Linked DNA regions of Homo sapiens: region 1 is linked to region 2. The links come from fine-mapping of genetic effects on gene expression. A gene starts in region 2. The other region holds a variant in brackets. All regions are shown on one strand. Distances are from middle to middle. Region 1 overlaps ITGAM (integrin subunit alpha M). Region 2 holds the start of PYCARD (PYD and CARD domain containing).

Region 1 (4,380 bases), 66 kb before region 2:
TGAGATCAGGAGTTTGAGACCAGCCTGGCTGACATGGTGAAACCCTATCTCTATTAAAAATACAAAAAGTAGCTGAGATCGCACCACTGCACTCCAGCCTGGGTCACAGAGCAAGACTTCGAAGAAAAGGAAGAAAGGAAGAAAAAAAGGAAAGGAAAGGAAAGGAAAGGAAAGGAAAGGAAAGGAAAGGAAAGGAAAGCAAAGGAGGAAGGAAGGAAGGAAGGAAGGAAGGATTTGCCAGATATACAAAAGGAGTAGATTCTAGAAAAGGGAAGGGCACACACATATAAAGTGATGTGGAATGTGCTCCTCTGCCTTCTGCCCCATCCCCAAATCCACTTTCTACCCATTGCCGCTCAGCTCTGTGGCCTGGGAGGTCAACCTGCAGGGACCCCATCACCAGGACTCTGTTGCCCTCTGGATTCCCATTGGATTTGGCAGATGAGGGGGCTCAACAGAAGACTAGAGGGAGGAGGGCAGTGAGGTCCGGGTGTTCTCCCATTGAGGTTGTTTGGGGACAGCTATGTCCTTCACAAAAGACCAACTGTTCCTCAGAAGGAAGCCAGCTCCACATGACTCTCTCCAGACCCTGGTGAGCTCTCCCTCTCCTCAACCCATAAACCCAGGGGTGGCAACAGACCTGCTTGCCCAGGGCTTGGAAAGTCCCTGATGGCTCCCTTAGGCCTGTCACAGCTTTATAATTACTCCCTTTATAAATAAACCCCCCTCTTTGTAAATAAATCTTACTGAAACCGCCTTTGCAAAATTATGACTGAGACAGTGAAAGAGATCTAACTTAACTGATTCCATCTTGCTTCTAACCTCCAAGCTGTCCGTGTTCATTCCTGGGTGTAGGCTGAGCTAACTTTGGGAGACACTTAGTTTATAGTTTATAGTTTATAGTTTAAACAAAGATCGTAACAGCCCTTTCCCAAAGCAGACCTCCTTCTTACCTGGGGACTAGATTGCCTTTGTAGGACTAACGTTAGCCACAAGATGAGAAATTATGATTTAGGAGTCATGCAGCTGGAGGCTACAAGATTCTGACCCTCCCTAAACTGCTCCTAAAATCAGTGCTTGAGATATTTTGCAGACCTTGCACTTGATGGATCAGCTGGCACTGCCCAGATCAATAAACTGGTTCATCCGATCTTGCTGCCCCCACCCAGGAACCAACTGAACGCAAGAAGACAGCTCCGACTCCCGATGATTTCATCCCTGATCAATCAGCACTCCCAGCTCACTGGCTTCCCCCGCGACCTACCAAGTTATCCTCAAAAACTCTGCCCCCAAATGCTCGAGGAGACTGATTCGAGTGATAATAAAACTCTGGTCCCCTGCATAGCTGGCTCTGTGTGAATTATTCTTTCTCTATCGCAATTCTGCTGTCTTGATGAATCGGCTCTGTCTAGGCAGCAAGCAAGGTGAACCCCTTGGGCAGTTACATTACTGGAATGTGCTTTTGGTCCCAGTTGAGACTCCTACTGATATATGGGACAAGGGCCTCAAAAGGATTCTGGCAGAATCCAGGAATGCCGTTTGATGGAAACAGCACTACAGGGACAAACGTATGTGACGGCGATGGAGACACAGCGGTGGCATCAAGCAAAGAGCAGCGGGCAAGGGCCTTTCTACTCCAATAAGGAGCTCGACTTTATCTGTAGGCAATGGGGAGCCACAGAAGGTTCTTAGAAAAGGAAGTGAGATGATTTGTTTTGTATTTTAGAAAGACTGGCAGGGCACAGTGGCTCATGCCTGTAACCCCAGCACTTTGGGAGGCCTCCTGAATAGCTAAGACCACAGGCACACGCCACCATGCCTGGCTAATTGCATTTTTTGTAGAGATGGGGTCTCATTATGTTGTCTAGGCTGGTCCCAAACTCCTGGCCTCAAACAATCCTCCTGCCTTGACCTCCCAAAGTGCTGGAATTACAGGTGTGAGCTACCGCACCCTTTCGAATTTTGAACCAAGTGTATGTATTATATATTTTTTAATAAATGAAAACTTTTTTAAAGAAGTAGTCTTGAACCCTGAGAGTGAGGTCTAAAGAGGGAGAGGTAGAAGTGTTAGCTGAAGCCACAGAACTGGGTGATTTCAGGAAAGAAGAACACGTGGGTGAA[A/G]AGAGAACCCAGAACCCAGTGCCCCTAGGTGGAGAGGGAAGCTGGAGGCCAGCCGGGGGTGAAGAGAATGCACTCAGGAAGCTTGGGTGGTGAGGGTGAGGAGAGATGGCAGGAGATGAGGAGGAGACTGGAAGAGAGAAGATTGTTTTCATGGCTATCGATTGTGGTGGTTGATTGCTTTTCAGATACAGATAGAATGAAGAGTGTTTACAGCCAGAGGAAGGGGGAAGTTAATTGTCCTAGAGAGAAAACAAGTGATTCAAGAGATGCTGGGCCAGGCGCAGTGGCTCACACCTGTGATCCCAGCACTGTGGGAGGCTGAGGTGGGAAGATCTCTTGAGCCCAGGAATTCGAGACCAGCCTGGGCAACAAGGTGAAACCCCATCTCTACAAAAAATACAAAAATCAGTATATGCGCACCTGTGATCCCAGCTACTCTGGAGGCGGAGGCACAAGAATTTCTTGAGCACAGGAGGCAGAGGCTGCAGTGAGCCGAGATTGTGCCACTGCACTCCAGCTTAGGTGACAGAGCAAGACCCTGTCTCCAAAAAAAAAAGAAAAAAGAAAGATAGGTGATCACCTTAGTTGGTGCATGAGAGACTCTCAAAAGCCCATATGGAAGAATTTAGTCATGGGACAGAGGAGAGACAGGTCTTCCTCTAAAACGAGTGAGTCACTGCCAGGAGTGCTGTCATTATGGAAATTTGAGAAAAAGGAGAAAGTGCGGTGTTACAGCTCCTTTAGAATTTGTCAACAAATTCCAGTGAAGACTGGAAAACCGCTTATTAAGATAAAATAAGAGAAGGGGAAAGTGGAGGGAGTCCATGCCTGAAGCTTTTGTTTTCTCTGTGGAGGAAGGAGGATTAACTGTGGAGGGTGAAATATAGAGGAACAGGGCTTGAGAAAGAAAAAAAATGCAAGGGAGAAACATTCGCCTGTGGTCCCAGAATCAACATGAAGACAAGCAAAAAGATGGCATAGCCATCGAACAAAGCAGTGGGAAAAAGCAGCTTGAAAGATCCACGCACTCTGGCCAGGCATGGTGGCTCATGCCCCCCACTCATTCCCTGGCTCATTCCCAGCACTTTGGGAAGCCAAGGTGGGCAGATCACCAGAGCTCAGGAGTTCGAGACCAGCCTGGCCAACATGGTGAAACCCCGTCTCTGCTAAAAATACAAAAATTAGCCGGGTGTGGTGGCGGGCACCTGTAATCCCAGCTACTTGGGAAGATGGGGCAGGAGAATCGCTTGAACCTGGGAGGCAGAGGTTGCAGTAAGCCAAGATCGTGCCACTGCACTCCAGCCTGGGTGACAGAGCGAGACTCTGCCTCAAAAAAAAAAAAAAAAAAAAAAATCCATACAGTCACTCAGAATCTCAATCAACAGAGGTTTGGGGAACAGGGGTGTGGAAGGCCGCCCCCCAGGATGGTCCCCAAGATTCCCACCTCTTGCCAATGACACCTTGCACCATCCCCTCCTCTGCAGTGTGACCTGGACTTATTTTTTAAAGACAGGGTCTTGCTCTGTCACCCAGGTTGGAGTACAGTGGTGCAATCATAACTTGCTGCAGCTTCAACTTCCCAGGCTCAAGTGATCCTCCTGAGTAGCTGGGACTGCAGGTGTGTGCCACCACGCCTGGCTAATTTTTTTTTTTTTTTGTAGAGACGGGGATCTCCCTATGTTGCCCAGGCTTGCCTTGAACTTGTGGCCTCAAGCAATCTTCCCACCTTGGCCTCCAAATAGCTAAGACTACAGGTGCTCATCACCACACTCAGCTAATTTTTTTTTTTTTTTTTTTTAGAGACAGGATCTCACTACATTGCCCAGGCTGATCTCAAGCTCCTGGGCTCCCAAAGCTTTGGGATTGCAGGTATGAGCCACTGTGCCTAGCCAAGGCGTTTTCCTAAAGTACAAGACCCTAGCACCTCCCTAGCTTCTGACTCTAATGGGACCCAGTTCCCCCACTCTTCTGCACCCAGAGCCCAGACCTTGAGCAGACGTCACCTCAGTCCTGCCCCCTCCCCTGGTCTTTTGCTGCGCATCTGTTCCCTCTGCCAAAGGCAACCCACCTCGGAGGGCCTCTGGGAACTTCTGGGGCTGCTGCCGTAGGTTGGATCCAAACAGGAAGCAGAGCCCTTTCACATACGTGTTCTCACTGCAAGTCTGGTGCACGGTGGGACCACAGGCCTAGGGGACAGGAGCCAGTGGAAGGGGCTGCCCCTGCTTCCTGTCCTTGTACCCCAGCACCTCCACCCTCCAC
Region 2 (4,380 bases):
GGCCGAGGTGAGAGAATTGCTTGAGCCCAGGAGTTCAAGGCTGCAGTGAGCCACAATCCCTCCGGTGTACTCCAGCCTGGGCAACAGAGTGAGGTCCTGTCTTCAAAAGAAAAAACAAACAACAACAACAACAACAACAAAAAGGCTTTCAGCAGGGTAGCAGAGCACTGCTCCCCATCGTGGTTTTTGTTTGTTTGTTTTTGTTCCTGTTTTGAGATGGAGTTTCGCTCTTGTTGCCCAGGCTGAAGTGCAATGGTGTGATCTCAGCTCACTGCAACCTCCACCTCACGGGTTCAGGCGATTCTCCTGCCTCAGCCTCCCCAGTAGCTGGGATTACAGGCACCTGCCACCACGCCCGGCTAATTTTTGTATTTTTAGTAGAGATGGGGTTTCACTCTGTTGGCCAGGCTGGTCTCAAACTCCTGATCACCCACCTCGCCCTCCCAAAATGCTGGGATTACAGGCATGAGTCACCGTGCCCGGCCCATCCTGGTTGTCTTGTTTGTTTTTGAGACAAGGTGTCTGTTGCCGAGTGGCACAGAGTGCAGTGGCACAATCATAGCTCACTGCACCCTCAACCTCCTGGGCTCAAGTGACCCTCCGGCCTCAGCCTCCCAAAGCACTGAGATGACATGCGTGATGAGCCACTGCACCCAGCCATGCTGGAAGCTTTTGAATACAACATGCTGCAGGCATCACAGCCTCATTCATTCCTTCACTCAGCAAATCTTTACTCAGCACCTAATGTGTTCCAGATACATTTTTTTTTTTCAGATGGAATCTAGCTCTGTCACCCAGGCTGGAGTGCAGTGGTGCAATCTTGGCTCACTGTAGCCTCTGCCTCCGAGGTTCAAGCGATTCTCATGCCTCAGCCGCCCTAGTAGCTAGGATTACAGGCGCCCTCCACCACACACAGCTATTTCCAGGTACATTCTTGACGCTAGGAATTCAGCAAAGAATAAGACAGTTAAGGTCTCCGATGCTCATAGGCCTCACATTTTAGAGAGGGATGAATGTCCAATAAGCATATAAACGTATAATATGTCAGGGTCGTATGACTACAAGGAACAGTGATTGTTACAACCCAGATGAGAGGGAAAAATAAAGGATTCCAAATATCCCCCTTGGGAAGTAGAGTCAGGATTCAAACAAAGAACTGTATGGCTTCAAGTTCATGGTCTTTAATCTCCTGGAGGCTGTCTCTCTTTCTTTTTTCTTTTTTTTAATCAGTGTTGGGATCAAATTCTGGCTCCCCTAGGAAGCATCTGGCAAGGTTTCGGGAGCCATCGGGTTGGCCATGTTATGCTGGAATATTTATAAGCACCGGAGGGTTATCCCCATGTCGTAGAAAATGAAACTGAAGCTCAGAGAGATTTGCACTCTCTGCCCTTTTGTACAACTCATTTTTCCCCAGTATGTGGAATTGAGGGAGCTTCACGCTTCTAGCTGTCATGATTCCAAGATTCTACGACATGTGGGAGAGGATCCTAAGGTTCGGGGAACCGCGGAGGTTTCGGGGTTCTAGAAATCCGAGGTTCTAAGCCTAGGTGCTCCAATAAACCCAGTGAGAGCCAGCCCAGGTTTCCGGTCTGTACCCGCTGGTGCAAGCCCAGAGACAAGCAGGCGCCACCCATGAGCCCCTCTGCGGCCCCCTCCCGGGTCCCACCTCGCAGGCCAGCTGGAGGGCGCGATCCTGGCGTCCCCCGACGGCCTGGGGCCCCAATCCAGAGGCCTGGGTGGGAGGGGACCAAGGGTGTAGTAAGGAAGCGCCTTTTGCTGGAGGGCAACGGACCGGGGCGGGGAGTCGGGAGACCAGAGTGGGAGGAAGGCGGGGAGTCCAGGTTCCGCCCCGGAGCCGACTTCCTCCTGGTCGGCGGCTGCAGCGGGGTGAGCGGCGGCAGCGGCCGGGGATCCTGGAGCCATGGGGCGCGCGCGCGACGCCATCCTGGATGCGCTGGAGAACCTGACCGCCGAGGAGCTCAAGAAGTTCAAGCTGAAGCTGCTGTCGGTGCCGCTGCGCGAGGGCTACGGGCGCATCCCGCGGGGCGCGCTGCTGTCCATGGACGCCTTGGACCTCACCGACAAGCTGGTCAGCTTCTACCTGGAGACCTACGGCGCCGAGCTCACCGCTAACGTGCTGCGCGACATGGGCCTGCAGGAGATGGCCGGGCAGCTGCAGGCGGCCACGCACCAGGGTGAGCCGCCCCCGTTCCCCTCCACCCCGTCTTTCCCCTCCACCCACACCAGCGCTTACCCCGCGGGCTCTTCCGCTTTCTGTTCCTCCTACCCCTAAACAAAGCTGCTCTACCGGAAAGGAGGCTCCCCACGCTTGGCCTACCGACCAACGGGACCCCGGCCCCACGGCGGGAAGGGAAGGGAAGGGGATCACTTGGCCCATATCCTTCCAGGCTCTGGAGCCGCGCCAGCTGGGATCCAGGCCCCTCCTCAGTCGGCAGCCAAGCCAGGTGAGGCCTCCACACCCAGCCCGGCCCCACCGCACTCCTGCACAGCCTGCATCTGTGCTCCCGCAACCAGGGCAGGGCAGGGCAGGGCAGGCACGGCTTGGCAACCCTGCGCACCCCACCCACCAACCCACACCCTGCGGGGGAAGGGAGACAATATTACCCTCATCCCACTGCATGTGGGGTCCTGGTGGCCGCCCCCTGGAGCCCTGCCCCTAGGCTTGCAGAGGAATTCCTGAAGAACTCAAGTTCAGCAGGGACAGGCCCCACACCCTGGCTGCTGGCTCATGTTCTCCTCCCACCCCCAGGCCTGCACTTTATAGACCAGCACCGGGCTGCGCTTATCGCGAGGGTCACAAACGTTGAGTGGCTGCTGGATGCTCTGTACGGGAAGGTCCTGACGGATGAGCAGTACCAGGCAGTGCGGGCCGAGCCCACCAACCCAAGCAAGATGCGGAAGCTCTTCAGTTTCACACCAGCCTGGAACTGGACCTGCAAGGACTTGCTCCTCCAGGCCCTAAGGGAGTCCCAGTCCTACCTGGTGGAGGACCTGGAGCGGAGCTGAGGCTCCTTCCCAGCAACACTCCGGTCAGCCCCTGGCAATCCCACCAAATCATCCTGAATCTGATCTTTTTATACACAATATACGAAAAGCCAGCTTGAACTTGTGTGTTTTCCTGCTTCTAGCCTGCTGGCATGTGCAGAGCTCAGCTATGCTTCAGAGGCCACCCAGCCTCCAGCTCCATGTCCCTAGGGTCTCTGGCACCCCAAATGCTTCCCCCATCCTTCCTGGTATCGCCATGGAATATCCCTCCTCATTCACCAGGTGGTGCTCCTCCAGTGCTCCCTAAAGGGTCTAACCTTACCATTATAGATAACAGCCTGTGACCCAGGTCCGAAGGTTAAAAGAGGCATGTACCAAAGGGCGCAAACTGGTGGGCAGCTCTGTCCAAGCCATTTAGAAACACACTAGTCTTCATAGCTCCCCTACCTTCCACATTTTCCACTGGAGAAAAATGCAGAATTAGAGAAATTTGCAGGGGGAGACACATTAGAGCATTATCTAAACATAGGACAGAAGAGCACAAGTCACCAAATTGCTCGAGGGCTCCTTCTGGTGCTGGCTCTTAACAGGCTTAAAGGCTCCCTCTGCCCCACCCCATCCCGTGGGGGAAAGGGTCATAGGTTGCACTTTGCTCAAAAAACATGCCAACCACCAAAGCAGATTTTCAGGAAATGAGTTGTGTGTGGTAGCTGCCTCTTTTCTTGATGCGATTTTTTTGGAGGGTTATTACTTATTCATTCATTTGAAAGGAACATTTAAAACTTTTTTTTTGAGATGGAATCTCGCTGTGTCACCCAGACTGGAGTGCAGTGGCGTGACCTCAGCTCACTGCAACCTCCACCTCCCAGGTTCAAGCTATTCTTGTGCCTCAGCCTCCCGAATAGCTGGGATTACAGGCCCCTGCCACCACACCTGGCTAGTTTTTGTGTTTTTAGTAGAAACAAAGTTTCACCATGTCAGCCAGGCTGGTCTGGAACTTCGGACCTCAAGTGGTCCACCCGCCTCCACCTCCCAAAGTGCTGGGGTGCTGGAATTACAGGCGTGAGCCAATGCACCCGGCCACTTTTTTCTTTTTTTTTTTTTGAGACGGAGGCTCACTCTGTCACCCAGGCTGGAGTGCAGTAGCATGATCTCAGCTCACCGCAACCTCTGCCTCCCAGGTTCAAGCAATTCTTGTGGCTCAGCCAGTCAAGTAACTGGAATTACAGGTGCTTGCCACCCCACCCGGTTAATTTTCGCATTTTTAGTAGAAACGGGATTTTGCCACGTTGCCCAGGCTGGTCTCAAACACCTGACCTCCAGTGATCCATCCACCTCAGCCGCCCAAAGTGCTGGGATTACAGGTGTGAGCCA

What was found. PIP is the estimated chance that this variant, and not a neighbour inherited with it, causes the effect. A credible set is the group of variants that fine-mapping cannot tell apart.
Region 1: its variant is the best candidate, but not a certain one, in a credible set for the expression of PYCARD in fibroblasts (GTEx, PIP 0.76).

What each region holds. Positions count from the first base shown.
Region 1 is chr16:31,265,957-31,270,336 of GRCh38, reverse strand. ITGAM (integrin subunit alpha M) reads right to left here. Exons shown (of 30, transcript NM_000632.4): 5 at 4,190-4,307. Among named protein-coding and RNA genes, the nearest start is that of ITGAM, 8.2 kb to the right of the region's middle. RefSeq lists an enhancer at 4,084-4,380. The variant A/G (reference allele first, on the strand shown) is at 2,122.
Region 2 is chr16:31,200,232-31,204,611 of GRCh38, reverse strand. PYCARD (PYD and CARD domain containing) reads left to right here and starts at 1,852. Exons shown (of 3, transcript NM_013258.5): 1 at 1,852-2,195; 2 at 2,409-2,465; 3 at 2,771-3,126. The coding sequence starts at 1,922. The coding sequence ends at 3,027. PYCARD-AS1 (PYCARD antisense RNA 1) reads right to left here and starts at 2,727. Exons shown (of 2, transcript NR_102400.1): 1 at 2,626-2,727; 2 at 1,160-2,152. RefSeq lists a silencer at 1,502-1,861 and enhancers at 1,972-2,201, 2,391-3,021.